Regions from separate parts of the Homo sapiens genome. Here region 2 is linked to region 1. A link means that fine-mapping ties the variant in region 1 to the expression of a gene that starts in the linked region. Tissue or cell type: whole blood. Region 1 holds a variant in brackets; the other region holds the start of a gene. All regions are shown on one strand. Distances are between the middles of the regions.

Region 1 (8,000 bases):
TGTCTCTCTCCAACACTCAGGTCTTTCCTATAGCTTAAAAAGATAATAGGGGGTTCTAAGAAATTAGAGTGTGCAACTTGATGATAAGAAGGTGGTTTTGAGGGATACTGAAAGGTGTTGATGTCCAAATCATAAAGACCAATCAGGGAAATGTCTGTGGACATACTCGGATTGCCCCTTAGATGGCTTTGATGAGAGAAGTTTTGGTTTACCAGACACATGCCTGTGGTCCAGGGCAAAAGTTGGTTCTCTCTTTAAGGAAAAAAGAAAATAAGAGGAAAACAGCCGGAAGTGAGACGGTAGATGGCGAAAGAACAGAGAAGAAAGTTGACTGGAACGGTTGAAATTAAATTCAAATTTCTGAGAAATTCTTCAACTTAAAATTGCAAGGAAAGCAAAAGAGATGGAGGATCTGTAGATTAAAAGCGTCTCCAGAGATGTAACAATCAATATCAGTGTGTGGACCTTATCTGAATACCAATTTTAAAAAGCAAGCGTCAAAAATATAGCATTAGTGGGATAATTAAAAATTTGATCAGTGACTGAATATTTGATGATACTAAGAAATTACAGTTAAAATTTTAAAGTATGACAATGGTATTGTGATGGTTAAAAACAAATCCCTTATCTTTTAAGATGCAGACTAAAATGAAATATGATGTCCGAGATTTACTTCAAAATAATACTTATTGATGTAAACCTATGCAAGGAACTGAGAAGTGGGCTAGCAGTGTGACAGCTGGTGCAGTCAGGGTGGACAGTCCCCTGGGCTCCCTTTATTTATTTTTTATTTATTTATTTTGAGATGGAGTCTCACTCTGTCACCCAGGCTGCAGTGCAGTGGTGTGATCTCAGCTCACTGCAACCTCCACTTCCCAGGTTAAAGCGATTCTCCTGCCTCAGCCTCCCGAGTAGCTGGGATTACAGGCACCCGCCACCACGCCCGGCTAATTTTTTTGTATTTTTAGTAGAGATGGAGTTTCACCATGTTGGCCAGGCTGGTCTTGAACTTCTCACCTCAAGTGATCTGCCTGCCTCGGCCTCCCAAAGTGCTGGGATTACAGGCACCCAACAGCAGGCCCAGCTAATTTTTGTATTTTTAGTAGAGATGGGGTTTTGCCACCTTGGCCAGGCTGGTCTTGAAATCCTGACCTCAGTTGATCCACCTGGGCTTCTCTTTAAATGGGTGCACTGCAGCAGAGTGGATGAGCAAGAGAAAGTGCCAGAAACAGGAAGTGGGAAAGGCTATTGGCATTGGGATTGGTAGGAGAATAAATACCTTGGTATCTACCGGAGGGCTGTGACAACTGACCCAAGAAAGAAACGGATGAATCTGGCCTGGGAATCTTTTATAAGGATCCTTGATGGGAACAGTTGTTTACTATGAATGGCCTTAGTTTGCCTCCTCTTCTATAATACATTATTCTGGGAATCCCTCTGTGGTAGATAATGCAAGGTTATGCTGCCTTGGGTGTAGGTTGCGTCTACTGAACATTCTGATTTGGTGGCATTTAAAAGAATGAGGTTTCACAGTCAGTTATTCCTCCCATCCTATCAGAACAATGTGCTCTCTGAGAACATGATGAACATCCATGGCCACATGGGAATGGAAAGTGAGTCTGGGAAGGTGGTCCAAGACTACAGCTGGACAAGAAACAGCTGATGGCCAGCTTGCCAATTACCTCAGCAGAATGCATGGAGTAGTTGGGTGGCAATTTTTCCAAGGCAACTGGGAGACAGTAGGATCCAGTTTGAAGACGTTCATTTAAGAGAATTGGCAGCCACTGAAACAGATGATGTAAATAATAAAGTGGTATTTATTACAGCATATAATTCTGATAATTTATCTAGCTCGCAATAATCAAATGCAACTAAACAGTGAGTAGATATTGACCAGTACTCTTTTTGGCAGTAATTTCTGTCCAGTTCTTTGCATTTTAAATCTCCGAGACCTCCTGAAATGGTAATATTGATGATTTATTGCTTTTGGAGCTAAAGCAGTAGCATTTTTCTCTGTAGCCAATGTTTGTGTGTGTCTGAACAACATCAATGTTTATTTCACCTTTTATATCTTTTAAAGAAAAAATGGTTTCTTCTTGGGGGACAAAGCTAGTTCTATACGTGAAGCATGGATATTAAATTTGGAAATAGTGAACACTGCAATGCTTTTTAAAAAACAGATGAGTATTCTTCCAACATCTATCACCCGCTAGCTTTCCATTCCTGAAATTTGACATTTGCTAAGGCAAATCATTTCTGCCTCTTGCTATAATGTGGCTTAGCATGTTTTGCTACTTCTGACTGGAAAAAATCAAGTGAATAGAATTTGGTTGTTTATCTCTGCAGGGACCTCAGATGCACCAACAACTGCAGTGTGAGTCAGCAGGCTGGAAACAACTCACTGAATATCCCAGGAGAGTTTCCACGGAGGCTCCTTGCTTCTGCTGACAGCTGATATGGTAGAAGGTGAACAGGAGGTGGTGATTTACTGTGAGCTTAGCGGGGAGCTTAATTTTCACTTCTTCATAAAAGTCAGGAGACCTGTTTCAAAAGCACATTATACACAAATAACTTTTAGCAAGAATGATGACTTCTCTGATTGTAAAACGCCACAGCCCCTTTGCTCCTCAGAATTTGCCTGGTGTTTTGCTTTTCATTTTACATTACTCTGCTCTGAAGCTGGAAGTCCCTGAGACCAAGCTTATGTTATTAGATGCACTTCCCTTACATAAAACTGTTCATGAACTAAAGGCTTTGTCAGGAAAAACAAAAAACAAAAAACAAAAAACAAAAAACAACTCCCCCACACAATGGAAAACTCCAACAACTTAATTTGAAGAAAGGATGAGGTTTGGACTCCTGCTGTGACCTCCTTTTTCCATTTCTACCCAAGGAACCAAGCCTAGCACCTAGCTGCACTCATCAAAGAGTAGAAGCAAATGAATGAGGCAGGAGGAAAAAGGAACCAATTTAACTGCATTATGAAGCCCTAGGTTCTTCATTAATTACGAAGTACATTACGTACATTGTAAAGTAATGTAGGTATGTAATGTACATTACCTCACTTAATCCTCATCCCAATCCCAGAATGTGCTTAAATGAAGGACTTAATTAGGCCCAGGTTATCAGGCCCGGATCAAACCCAATTCCGTCCAACACTGTGCAGGTGTCTCTCCCTTCCCTGTGGAACATGAATAATAGGGTGGGCATTATCCCATGACTCCATTTGCCGGTGGAATAATGAGTGTTCCATTTCTCCTTTGGTCAGCCTAGGCAGACAGTGGGGCAGGTGTCAAGTGGAGCGGACAGGGACACACAGGGCAAGGGGAGCCGGACTGTGCTTCTGGTCCCCTCCAGGGTCTCAAAGCAAGTTAGGAAATGTGTTTCCTTAATTAACGTAATACAACCTCTTTGCATCATACTAGAATAGAAGCTTCTGGAAAAGTCAAAACTATATTGGATTCTTGAAGACACGTTCTTCTCTCAGTCTTGGTTAATGGCAAAGTTATACATCTTCAACACAGAGTCACGGAACTGGCATGGATTTCCTTTGCCCCTCAGTCCCTGAATTATAAAAATAGTTAGGAGGAACCACCCACGGGACTTGGAAAAACCAGGAGATGATGAAACCATCTTGGCATATATTTAGAATGCTGAAATAGACTTACTTATTATGGTATGTAACAGCTGTGTACACTTCCTGCAGAAATTCAGGCCCGCTGGATTTTCCAAAGATGACCTGTTCACCAGTAGAGAAAGGATCAAATTATCAGTAACATTTGGGTACATCAAATTGACTATCATCAGGCCAACAGGATGTTCTGGTCTCATAGAGCTGCATTTTGTACAATTAAGAGTGCTGGGTTGGCCAGGAGCAGTGGCTCACACCTGTAATCTCAGCACTCTGGGAGGTCGGCGTGGGAGAATGGCTTGAGCCCAGGAGTTGGAGACCAGCCTGGGCAACATGGCGAAACCTCATCTCTACAAAAAAATACAAAAATTAGCCAGGCGTGGTGGCACATGCGTATAGTCCCTGCTACTCAGGGGGCGGAGGCAAGAGGATCGCTTGAGCCTAGGAAGCAGAGGTTGCAGTGAGTCGAGATTGCACCATTGCACCCCAGCCTGGGCAAGAGTGAGATCCTGTCTCAAAAAGAAAAAAAAAAGTGCTGGGACTACAACTGGCCCAAGCACACCAGTGCAAAGGAACTGGCTATGAAGGGTGAAATGAGGTTCCAAGGGGCTATATTAGTGACCAAAGGCCACATGTTTGTGAGATTAGAAAACCAGTACTCTCTCCACTCTGCCTCACTGCCTAGAGGTCTATCCAACAGGCCAAAGTTACATACTTTTGTCTTGAGTGAGAAATCCCCAGTTCCAGGTTCTTCTCTCTCAAACATACAGACCTACTCACTTAGGTGATTTGAATCTCCACTGCCTTATCCACATTTGTGCCATTTAGAAAAAGATACCTCCTTGGGCCTGAAGCAGCATTTAGGATGCATTATGAACAAGTGCACTCACCTTTGTGCAGAGAAAAAAAGCTCTTTCCTCTAGATGCAGTAATCCCAACACCAGAACCCATGGCTCAGTGAATGAAGAACAGACTGGACTTTAGCCCACAGTCACTCTTGGCTGGGCATCTTGGTTGCCACAGGATCTGCACAAGCATATCTGGCACTCCTGGCAGTGGCATGCCAGGGGCCTGAGCAGAGAGG[A/T]CTAAGAGGACCCCACCGCTGTCTTAAGACACCTTGCATTGGGAAGACAGGTGGGACGTTAGGAGAAAGGTTTTTTTTTTTCTTTTTTTCTTTGGGTGGGACATTAAGAGAAAGGATTTTTTTCTTTTTCTTTTTAGAAAGGTATATTAACTGCGTGCAGTGGCTCACGCCTTTAGTCCCAGCACTTTAGGAGGCCAAGGCGGGTGGATCAGCTGAGGTCAGGAGTTTGAGACCACCCTGGCCAACATGGTGAAACCCCATCTCTACTAAAAATACAAAATTAGCTGGGCGTGGTGGCACGCGCCTGTAATCCCAGCTACTTGGAAGGCTGAGGCAGGAGAATCACTTGAACTTGGGAGGTGGAGGTTGCGGCCATTGTACTCCAGCCTGGGCAAAAAGAGTGAAACTCTGTCTCAAAAAAAAAAAAAAAAAAGAAAAAAAGAAAGAAAGTTATATTAACTGAATTCTATGACTTATGGGAAATAGTAATAGCTAACCACCATCTCATTTAGTAGGAGATGGTTTAAAAAGTATAAATTCTGGCATTTTGAGTTCCTTGGAGCACACTGCATTTTATATATATATATATATATGAATAATTTGATTTATATTTTGCCTCAGAACAAAGATCCACTCCTAGAAGGTGTGGAGGTGGTGTGTGTTTATAATTACTAGGCGGTACTTTGTATTCATCAGCACTGTGGTCCGAGGCTTGAGTAAGTGTGTAACACTGTGTGTGTATAACACAGTGTGTACAGTTTGTGCATGGAAGACACTCAGCAAACATGGCGCACGTGTTGAGCCATCTCTTTACTTTGTATGCCTTTAGAGTGGGGTGGTCCTATGGGCAGTATGGAAAGACTTTATGACTTTTTTTAATCCTCTAAAATGATCTGTATGTTCCAAGCTCACTACAGAATAAGCCGAGAAAGAGATCGTCAAGTAAGACTGACCCTGTTTCCCCACTGATATCCTGGGCACAGAAGCCCTTGCACATGCTGAGCAGTATTGGCCTGGAATAGACGGACTTTGTACACTGATGAGTCCCGGACTTGTGTGAAGTGACAGGGGTGAGCAGCCCACCCTGATTTGAGGCAAATGTTCGTTTCCCTCCTTACCGGCATCGCATTGCTAGCATCTTCTCCACACATAAACTGGATCTTTATTGTAATGTTCCGGGCTGATGCTAGTTTGTTTACAAAGTTCAGCCTCTGTGGGTAGACATAGAGAAGGTTTCTGGAAAAGAAGAGATAAAGAATCAATGAAAAAGGTCTAGAGTTTATTTTAACTAAGTTCTTCAGCAAATGCTGAGACTTCCATTCATGGGGTGCTTTTTCCAAAGAAGTTTTTCCTCTCAGAAGTGAATTATTATTGGGGGGAGTGAATTACTTGATTCTTCCTCTTCAGCTACAGTCATCTGAAAATAACCCCCATCGCTCTCTGTTTTGCTACAAGTAAAGATGTGTCTGCTGCAGCTTAGAAAGTCTTCATGTCTTGGAATGTGGAAATCTGCCTAGAGGTAATTGTCTATCTGATACACAGATAAAGAAGGCAAAAAAGGTCCAGCTCATTTTAAATAAAACTCATGGCCATAGATAATGGCCTACTTGTCATTCTTCTCTTTTTTCTTCCTAATCTTTATGTAATAGTTTCCTTTTCTTACTGGCATGGCACTCGTATTGGCTTAGCTTTCTGTTCTTATCTAAGATGGCAGCTCAAACCTCCAAGCTCAATTACTGTAAACGACAACAACAATAAGAATAATATATCCATCCATTTGACAACTATAGGACAGGTACTAGGCTACCCAGTGCCTGGGTAACTTGCATATATTTTTCTTTCTATTTGCATTATTAGTAGTAGATTCCACTACAGTGTAAGTTCCACAAGGACAGGGATTTTTCTCTCATGTTTTTGATTCACTGATGTATCTCCAGCACTAGAACAGTGCCTAGGACACAGGAGTATTAAGTAAGTGTTTGTTGAATGAAGGAATGAGTGTACACATAATTGATGAAGTATATTCCTGGCTTGAAGAAACAATAATAATGATACTAACATTTAAACAGGACTTATCCTGAGTCAGGCCAATGTTCCAAATACTTCATATTTACTAATTTGTTTAATTCTCATAGCTATCCTATAGGTTGGTACTATTATCATTGTCATCATCCCCATGTCACAAGTGAGGAACAAATGAGATACAGAGATGTTAGGTAATACACCCCATATCATATAACTAAATGGCAGAGCGGGGAATTCAACCCAGACTGTCTAGTTCCAGAGTCATGCTCATAACCACTGTATTCTCTCAGATAAGAGCCCTGATAAGCATGGCCTTTCCATACTGTGCTATCCTGACATCTCTCAGGGACAAGTTTGCCTTAATTTTCTAGGTATTAACAGTGGCATGTCAACCTGCATTTCCCAGCCTGTCCCACAGAGCCCTAGTGCTCTGCAAAGTGTTAACAAGTGTATGGGGAAGGTAGGGGGCGTTGAGCAAAAATGTGCTTGGGAAAGAGCAAGGCAAAGCGAGATAAACAGGTTACTGTGCACTGAGAATGCCTCAGAAGGAGAAAGACTCTTCTTTCCCCAAATGTTTTGACCTCAGAACTCCTTTCATTTATTTATCCTTTCATGGTAGCTTTTATGAATTTAACATTCTGAGAAATTATTTGGGGACACATTGAGATAAACTTACCTAGTCACAGAAGAACATCCCACATCAAGGAAAGAAAAGTTAGGGCACAGGGATTCTCAAATCTCTTGCAAAATAATGAATGCTCTCAGGTATTCGAGAGGAAAAATGATAATTGGAACAATCAAGAACACACAGGAGCCGTTACGTTGGATGTGCAAGTTCAAAGGCCATGGAGGCAAATAAATAGTATTCCTAGGTCTTATTTTACCCTCATCTCTCTATTTTGGGTGACTCCCTGGAGGCAGAATGGGGCTGGCCTGGTGCTGGGAGCAAGTATGAGTTGCTGTACCCTGTGACTTTCTGGGCTGATATGTGACAATACTCAATGAGCTTCAAGTATCAGTGAGGTGCAGATGGTCTTCCCAGAAGAGTAGATGACAGGCCATGTCACAATGAAGGGATCAGCATAGAATTCTGGGGTGCTCAGGCCAGGAGGCACCTAGACTGAGCCCCAACTTTTAAAGATGAGACACATGATAAACGAGCCACAGAGCAGGCAGAGGCCCACTGCAGGGCTGTTTCTACTCAGCCACTGGCTGACTTAGCAGCACTTCCCAAATCGTGCTCTGTCTAAACAGAGGCAG
Region 2 (8,000 bases), 160 kb after region 1:
ACAAGAGGGTTAATGTTTTTTTCTGCATTCTACACTTTCGTCCTCTTTATCCAAGGTTCTTATTTTACTTTAATATTTGATCAAATTTTACATCTATTCTGTATTTGAAAGACACTAAGATTTTGTTTAATAAATTTTCAGAGTACTAGTAATAATTTTTATAATCTACAAAGGCACTAAATTCCAGTAAGAAAAAAGGCAATTAACAAGACTAGATGTTCCCACAAGTACCATGTTATGACATTTAATGCAGCAGCACCTGAAATCCCAAACGCAAATGTTATTACGAACTGCCTAACTTAGATCTAGTCTTTCCTTGGCACGCAAGTCAGCAACAAAAAAATGGAAATGAAGACAAGTATATAGCACTTACAAGAAAATTAATTTCACCTTTCTTCTCAGACTGTGAGATAGTCTGCTCACTCCTTCTGGAGACTGGTGTGGTCAGAACTGAACGCTTTACAAATAATATTTTTAATATATCAGATTTGAATACTTCATTAACAGGAAGCACACTGGTTTTATCCCACAAATATTTTTAAGAGATAGTTTACACTATTCTGAGTAGTAAGGTGAAAAACATGAGCACATGCTGAATGTACTAATGGCCATATTTCAACACAGTCTTACTTTTGGAATTTGACCTATTTAAAAAAAATAATAGGTAGGCACGTAAGGGAAAACATTTCTTTTCCACCTTCAACATTGCAAAACATCACATTGTTAATGTTTATATATTAAACACTAATCAGAAACAGAACACTTTGCCAATGCTGCTACCAAAATGATGATTTTTTAAAAATTAATTCCCCTCTTGCTTTAAAGGAAATTCTTGGGATACATATGCATCAAAATAACAATCGGCCCAATTAAGAGCACAGTCTTTGGAGCAGTTTGCAATCCCAGCTCTGCCATTGCTGGTTGTATGGTCTTGAAAAAATTACATGGCCTTGTGCAGCTGTATCTCCAAGATTCCTTTTCCTCTTCTGTACAAGACTTCATGAGTTTGATAGGCTTTTTGTGAGAATTTAATCATAAAATCCATTAACTGTATAATATAGTGTCTGGGACACAATAAGTAAACAATAAATGGTGAAATTAAATGATATATGAATACTAGGTATGTCCTTATTAATCTGCTCCTTTGAATAATAATTTCTGCCAAGCTCCTTAGCATAACTCTCCCACACAACACACAGAGTGCTTCAAAAAGGAAAACAGAACTCTAAGAATACGAATTTCCAATCCATTTTCTTGCCTGAGGATTATAGAACCTTTTATACTTTATTAAACTTGAGGGGGCTCTTCTTGATCAGATTTCATCACATATTTTCTTCCATTGAATGTGTTTTGGGTTCTCAGCACCAGATGGAAGGCACAGGCGGAGAAACACTGGCCCCAAGAAAGCTCCCAGCCAGCCACTGGCATCTCCATACCTAACCCAAACTGATCTCTGCCTGAAGCTCTCCAACTTCAGCTTTCCTTCCTACCTTTCTATCTTAGGCTCTCAAAGATGGTGATGATGGAGATAATGACAGCAGTGAAGCTGATTGTAATGTTAATGATGGCAACTAAGAATTATTCACCATTTATTCTGAGCCAGACACTACAAGCAACATGCAATCAACATGAAAATCATTAACAAGACATTTTGCATTATTTTTTCTGTACTGTCTCTAAATTCCAATGTGTATGTTACACATCCAGCACTTGGCAATTCGGACTTTGTACCTATTATTCATTTAATCCTCCCCACAGTCATAAGAAGTAGGTACTATGATCAACTCTACTTGGCACATAAAGAAACCAAAGCTTAGAGAAGTTAAGTAACATGTCCAATGTTGCACAGTGACTTTGTAGCAGAGAGCCAATTTGCAAGCAGATCAGACACTAACCAGGGCCTTTATTCTTAACCCCCAGGTGACACCGACCCCGCAGTTGCTTGCAAGACTGCCTGTAGGATTAGTCCGGGTCTCGGCCACTCACCCCAGATCAACCCTGCCCAACCCCATAGTTTCTAACATCTTTCTGCCCCAGTCACACTTCCTGATCTAAAATTCACAAAGACAGAGGATCAGGAGCTATAGCAAATAATACACCCATCAGTAACTTCAGTTTGATTCCCTATACTCCTTGAATGAATTACCCCTCCTGGCATGCAACAGCTATGAACCTTAATGTAGAAAAAAATTCCCATAGGGAGATCCCTGATATACTTCATGCCTTGTTTTTGCTTTTTTTTTTTTTTTTTTGTCTGTTTTTTGAGACAAGGTTTCACTCTCTCACCCAGGCTGGAATGCAGTGGCATGATCACAGCTGTGATCCTCCTGGGCTCAAGCGATGCTCTTGTCTCAGCCTCTTGAATAGCTGGGGCTACAGGTGCATGCAACCACACCTGGCTAATGTTTTAAAATTATTTTTTTGTAGCCACAGGGGTCCCACTATGTTGCCCAGGCTGGTCTCAAACTCTGGGCTCAAGTAATCCTCCCATCTGGGCCTCCCAAATTGCTGGGATTAGAGGTGTGAGCCATGGCACCCAGCCTCTTTATGCCTTTTGACTAGTACCTTTTGGCCTCCAACATTAATATGCAATATACATAAATAATTAAACTCATTTTACAGATGACGAAATAGTAAGGTAAGAGAAACAGTTTGCTGGCAGTCACGTATCAAGTGGAAATAAAATCGTCAATAAAGCTCGATATGCCCTCTAGAAGACCTTATCGCCTTGTTTTTCTAGGCTTTTAATTCCTTGTTCAAACCTCTTCACACACTAACAGCACAAAGATGAACCTACGGTGGAATCCACCTTTCACAGGCTCAGCTAAGTGAAGATTAACAAATCGGACAGCCCTGTGGGCAATAGAATAAGTTGACACTTTAGAATGAGTTTCCTATTATCTTTTAACTAGACAGTCTAGCTTTCTCAGGGCAAGACAAAAATGTCCCAATTACTTGTCAGCAGTTTTTAGTGGAGGAAAAACTGCAGTTAAAGCACCTTTACTGAGAACTTTGAGCAGTAAATGTGCTTACATATTTAGTTTGTGCAACTTTGATTAGGAATTGGATGGTGAGTTGGGATCCCCCAGTCCTTAGCTTTTTGCTGGAGTTCTGTAAATCTCAAAATGTCAGCCACAGGCCATTTCTTTTGGTTTATTTAAGTGTAGATTTTTTAAAAAATCACTTTTTCCACTTCATGGCTCCTTTGGACCAGGGTATAAAAATAGCGATGCCACCAGGAGCCAAGCTCTTTCTGGAATAATGAAGCAGGCGAGGACGGAGCCTTGCTCAGGACGACAGAAGGCTTGCAGCCTGCCTCAAACGCAACTCTAATTTCAGCCACTTCACTTCTTCCCCCCGCGCTCAGACTTGCCTCAAAGGAAGGAGCCGTTTATGAGACACTCCGTGGCGCGCCCAACACGGTTACCCAGGCGCCTATCACCCTTCTGGGACCCGGCCACCTGTAAGAACCTGGAGGGCGGAGCGGGCGAGGTTGTTCGGGGAAGGGATCCCCGGCGGCTGAGGACATCCAGGAGCACCGAGATTCTTGGGGAGGACCTCGCCGGGCCCAGCGCAGGAGCCGCCGCGCGTCCAGCGGCTCCACCGCCGCAGCCTCGGGAACCGGGCGCCCCAGGTCTCAGGCGCGCCCCGCCGCGGACGCGAATGGACTCGTCCGGCCTCGGCCCCTGCAGCGAAGCTCCGCTTCACACCAGCGCTGGGCTGTCCGGCCGCAACCTGCGCGCCGCGGGGGGCGTCTTACCTGTTGATCTTGAGCGCGAACGCGCGGCGCTCTGCGCTCGGCAGAGTGGCCATGGCCCGCCGGCGGTTCGGTGGCTTCTAGGGTCGCGGGGTGCGGAAAGCGGGGGCCTGGCGCGCCGCAGAGTAGCCGCGGAACATGCCCAGCCAAGCGCAAACCTCGTCTGTCGGTCGGCGCTGGAAACTTCCGCATTTCCACCTTCTAAGCCGAAATCACCCCGGGGGAGGGTCCGAGCTCGGAGCAGCGACGGCCGGCTCCGCCACCCGGCCTGGCGCGCAGGCAGCGGCGGGCGAGGAGGGCGTGGGCCCAGCGCGGAACTGGCCTCCCGATACTGGGGCAGACGGCGCGCTCTGCCCGGGGCCGCCGACCTCCGGCCGAAGGGAGCGCGGGCGGACGACAGGCGACCACTGCGCGCAGGCCGGAAGCTCCATCTGCCCGAAGCTGCGAGGCTGCCAGGGAATGTAGGCAAGTCGGGGGAGCCCCACAAAGCTGGCGAGGTCGGGAATCACCCCAGGGATTCGTAAGGCTAGGTGTTATTAAGGGTTGACACCATTCTCGAAGAAGGCAGCCAAAAAAAAAGACAAAAAAGTTAGTGGAATCTATCAGGATTCAAATCAACTTTTGCAAGCAATATGCCCATCATCCTTCCTGAGACACTAAATAAATATAATGGATTCATCCAAGGAATAAACATTATGAGTTCTCAAAAAATGTTTTCGTCACAACCTGGCGTGAATGCTTTTCTCCGGAGAAACACTGAAGGCGGCGTTCTTGCGATTCAAGGGTACGCTGCGTCCAGGTTTATTTCAGTTTCAGACTGAGGTCTGCTAAGAAGCCCGGCCTCAAACTCAAGATAAAAACAGAAAAGTCCCAGTGTTGACGGGAGTGGAGGAGCCCGTGTTCGCTTCAAGGTGCCGGCGTGCTGCTCTAACCTGTGCTATATATACTCGAGCACTCTCCATATAATGCCTCCATTTACCAACTTGCTCTTAAAAAATACCAAAGCAGGCCGGGCGCGGTGGCTCACGCCTGTGATCCCAGCACTTTGGGAGGCCGAGGCGGGCGCATCACGAGGTCAGGAGATCGAGACCATCCTGGCCAACGTGGTGAAACCCCGTCTCTACTAAAATACAAAAAATTAGCCGGGCGTGGTGGCGCACGCCTTAGTCCCAGCTACTTGGGAGGCTGAGGCAGGGGAATCACTTGAACCCGGGAGGCGGAGCTTGCAGTGAACCGAGATCTGCCACTGCACTCCAGCCTGGCGACAGAGCAAGTCTCCGTCTAAAAGAAAAAAAAAAAAACAACCAAAGCGAAGTATTTTTGGTTCAAACCTGCACTATTTAATATGATAGCCACTAGCCACATGTGGCTATTGACCACTCGGCATTATGGTTAGTCTGAATTGCCCACTGCTGGATGTGTAAAATGTACACTGGAATTTAAAGACAGCGCAGAAAACATCGTGTAAAATGTCTTGTTAATGATTTTCATGTTGATTGCATGTTAAATGATACTTTGGATATAAAAAATATATTATTAAAGTTAATTTCACCTGTTTGTTTTCCCCTTTTAAAAATGTGGTTTGCATTTTTAAAAATGTAAAATTACACATGTGGCTCACATTTGTGAGCCTCATTATATTCCTATTGGACAGTGCCAGTCCAATACAACCTAATTTGTCACCTAATACTAAAATCCACCTAAGGACTATATTCAGTCTCTTCCTGATACAGCCTTCCTTCCTGGTTTCAGCTGTGTCAGGTAGTTTAGTAACTTTTCAGTACTGGTTAGGTAACTCCCCGCCCCCCAATGCCCACCAAATATCAGTGCCCTTTTAAGCATATAAGACAAAGTTCACTGCATAGACTACAATAGACTACATACGAAAACAAACCCAAAGAAAAATAAAGCTTTTTTGAAATTTAGAGTTTCTGACTTTCAAAACTGTCCTTATTTACTACATTGGAATTTATGAGCAAACATTTGGATAGCAAAATACAAAGAGAACAAATGTGTAAGTACTTCTTCAAACTGAGACTCAACGAATGATACATAGAAAACATTTTGCCCCAGAGGCTTCGGTCCACGGTGTACCATGTCAGCCTTTCGGATGAACTCCTCTGAATTTCTGAATGTTTATGACATACATTTTCATATAGAACAAAAATATACTGGTTTCACACAAACATAAATAAAATGTAATGAAAGCATCTCAGATTTTCAGCATTTGCAATCAAGGAAACTTTTTGGGTGAATGTGGGAATCATAAAACCTTCCATCTTGCCTCAGATCATACTGCAATAGATTTAGTATTTGGTACCTAACCATGAAGGTTAGGCCAGCATTATTATCCTCTGTGCTGTCAATTTCTTGATGGTTAGAATTGTCTCCAGATTTCCTTAACACTCTTTTAACAATTCACCATGAATGTGTTATCCATTAATTTAGTCAAATGCCTGTTTTCAAGTTTGATCTGCTGTTAGATACATTCACATATTGCTGGCAAATAGCCATCCAAGTGCCTTTCTTCCTTATTCTCACTGCCTCTTTCGTTTTCCATCAGCCCTCTGTCCAGAGAGAACTCTGGGAGGCCTCCTTCTTTCCGCATCTGATGGTCTCTCTTGGCCTTCCTCTTTCTCCGTATCTTTGTGTCATTCAATTTTGTTTTTCACCTTTATACAACTCTTCCCTTGACTTCTATCTCAGACCATACATCAATTATCCTAAATGCTCTAGTTTTCCCCACATCTTCTTCTTACCTCCCCAGAAAGCCGACCTCTTTCTCTACATTGCATCTTACCTATTTTATTGAACAAACAACTAAATAACACTTATCTTGTACCGGGTACTGCTCCAAGTCCTTTATAAAAATTAATTCATAGCAACCATTAAATAATAACATTAACCCCCCCACACATACCTCTTTGCAACTGGAGAAACTGAGGCTTAGAGAAGTTAAGTGACTTGACCAAGATTACAAACTAGTAAGGGCAGAGCCATTTCCTATCCTAAAGTTTTGCCTATTTCCCAGATTTCTGTACTCTAACATCTTCAAACTCCAGTATAAAACTAAAATTCTCCATCTACCCTACTTAACTGGAAGCTAGCTATCTCTCCATAATCACACATTTTTTGGGGGGTCGGTGGTGGCACACTACTTCCTCATTTTCCAGGTTTAAAACTTTGGAGTCATCCAGTGGAGGGAAAAGCAGGAAATCTGGGTTCTGGCTTCAGCTTTTTGCTAATTGTGTAATCCCGAGTAAGTCACACGGTCTTTGGATCACAGAGGCCTGTATCTTGGAATGACTCCATCTGCTTGCCTCTCTCTGAACTTTAGAAATACGTCAGCTCTAACTTTTTTTCCTCCTGTGTCCTTCAGATCTAATCACCTACCAAGGTCTGCCATTTATTTCTTATAAATATCACTTCTTTGTAAATATCACTGTTCTCACAGTGGCTTTCATTCCGGTCCAGCCCTTATAAATTAATACCTAGATAACAAAAATAAGATTTTAAATGGCTTCACTGCCTGTAGCCTCTTCTTTCTCCTATCTCATCTGTTTCTATCACTAGATGAAGTTTACTAAAATACCTGTTTCACCATATTTCTTCTCTGCTCATTTAGCTTTGGTGACTTCCTGTAGCCTCTATGACCAAGCGTGACCTTTTCTAGCTAGCTCGTATGCCCACTTCACAAAACCAGCTTTATTCTTTACCTTTCTGTTGGAGCAGGGAAGATCTCCAGCTTGTCCCTAAAGCAGGCGGTGCTCCTGTCTGCCCAGGCCCTCTTCCTGCTTACGTTATCCTTCCTGCTGTCCTCGCCTCGCACCACATCCAGTCTCTGCCCATCCCTCAGGGTCTGAGTCAAGCTACCATGCTCCATCTCTATTGGATGGAGTGTCTCTTTCAGTCTGACAGCATCATTTAATTAATTAAAAGTGTGGGTCATTACCAATAAACACAGCGCAGTGGAATGCAAGATCCTGAGGACAGGACTAGAGAGGAAAAAAAAGTGTGATCATTTTCATGTCCCTTCCTTCTTCCCCAAAACCACGCAGGACCTCCCCAGATTTAGTTCAAATGTCACCTTCCAAGAACATCTAGTTAACATGACAGTGCCCCCTTCCCTTGTCCTGACACTTTCTAACTCCTTTTCCAACTTTGTTTTTCTCCATAGCTGTTATGACCATCTGACATACTATATATTTTATTTATTTGTTTATTATCTCTTATGCTTCTAGAA

The links. PIP is the estimated chance that this variant, and not a neighbour inherited with it, causes the effect.
Region 2: DOCK8 starts here. The variant in region 1 is fine-mapped to the expression of DOCK8 in whole blood (TOPMed, PIP above 0.99).

What each region holds. Positions count from the first base shown.
Region 1 is chr9:365,969-373,968 of GRCh38, reverse strand. It overlaps DOCK8 (dedicator of cytokinesis 8), which reads right to left. Exons shown (of 48, transcript NM_203447.4): 15 at 5,834-5,951; 16 at 3,669-3,739; 17 at 2,403-2,541; 18 at 1,683-1,784. Among named protein-coding and RNA genes, the nearest start is that of DOCK8-AS2, 100 kb to the left of the region's middle. The variant A/T (reference allele first, on the strand shown) is at 4,716.
Region 2 is chr9:210,790-218,789 of GRCh38, reverse strand. It overlaps DOCK8 (dedicator of cytokinesis 8), which reads right to left and starts at 3,925. Exons shown (of 48, transcript NM_203447.4): 1 at 3,761-3,925. The coding sequence starts at 3,813. DOCK8-AS1 (DOCK8 antisense RNA 1) reads left to right here and starts at 3,040. Exons shown (of 1, transcript NR_160804.1): 1 at 3,040-5,333. RefSeq lists silencers at 3,451-3,590, 3,761-3,810, 3,861-3,910, 3,921-4,170.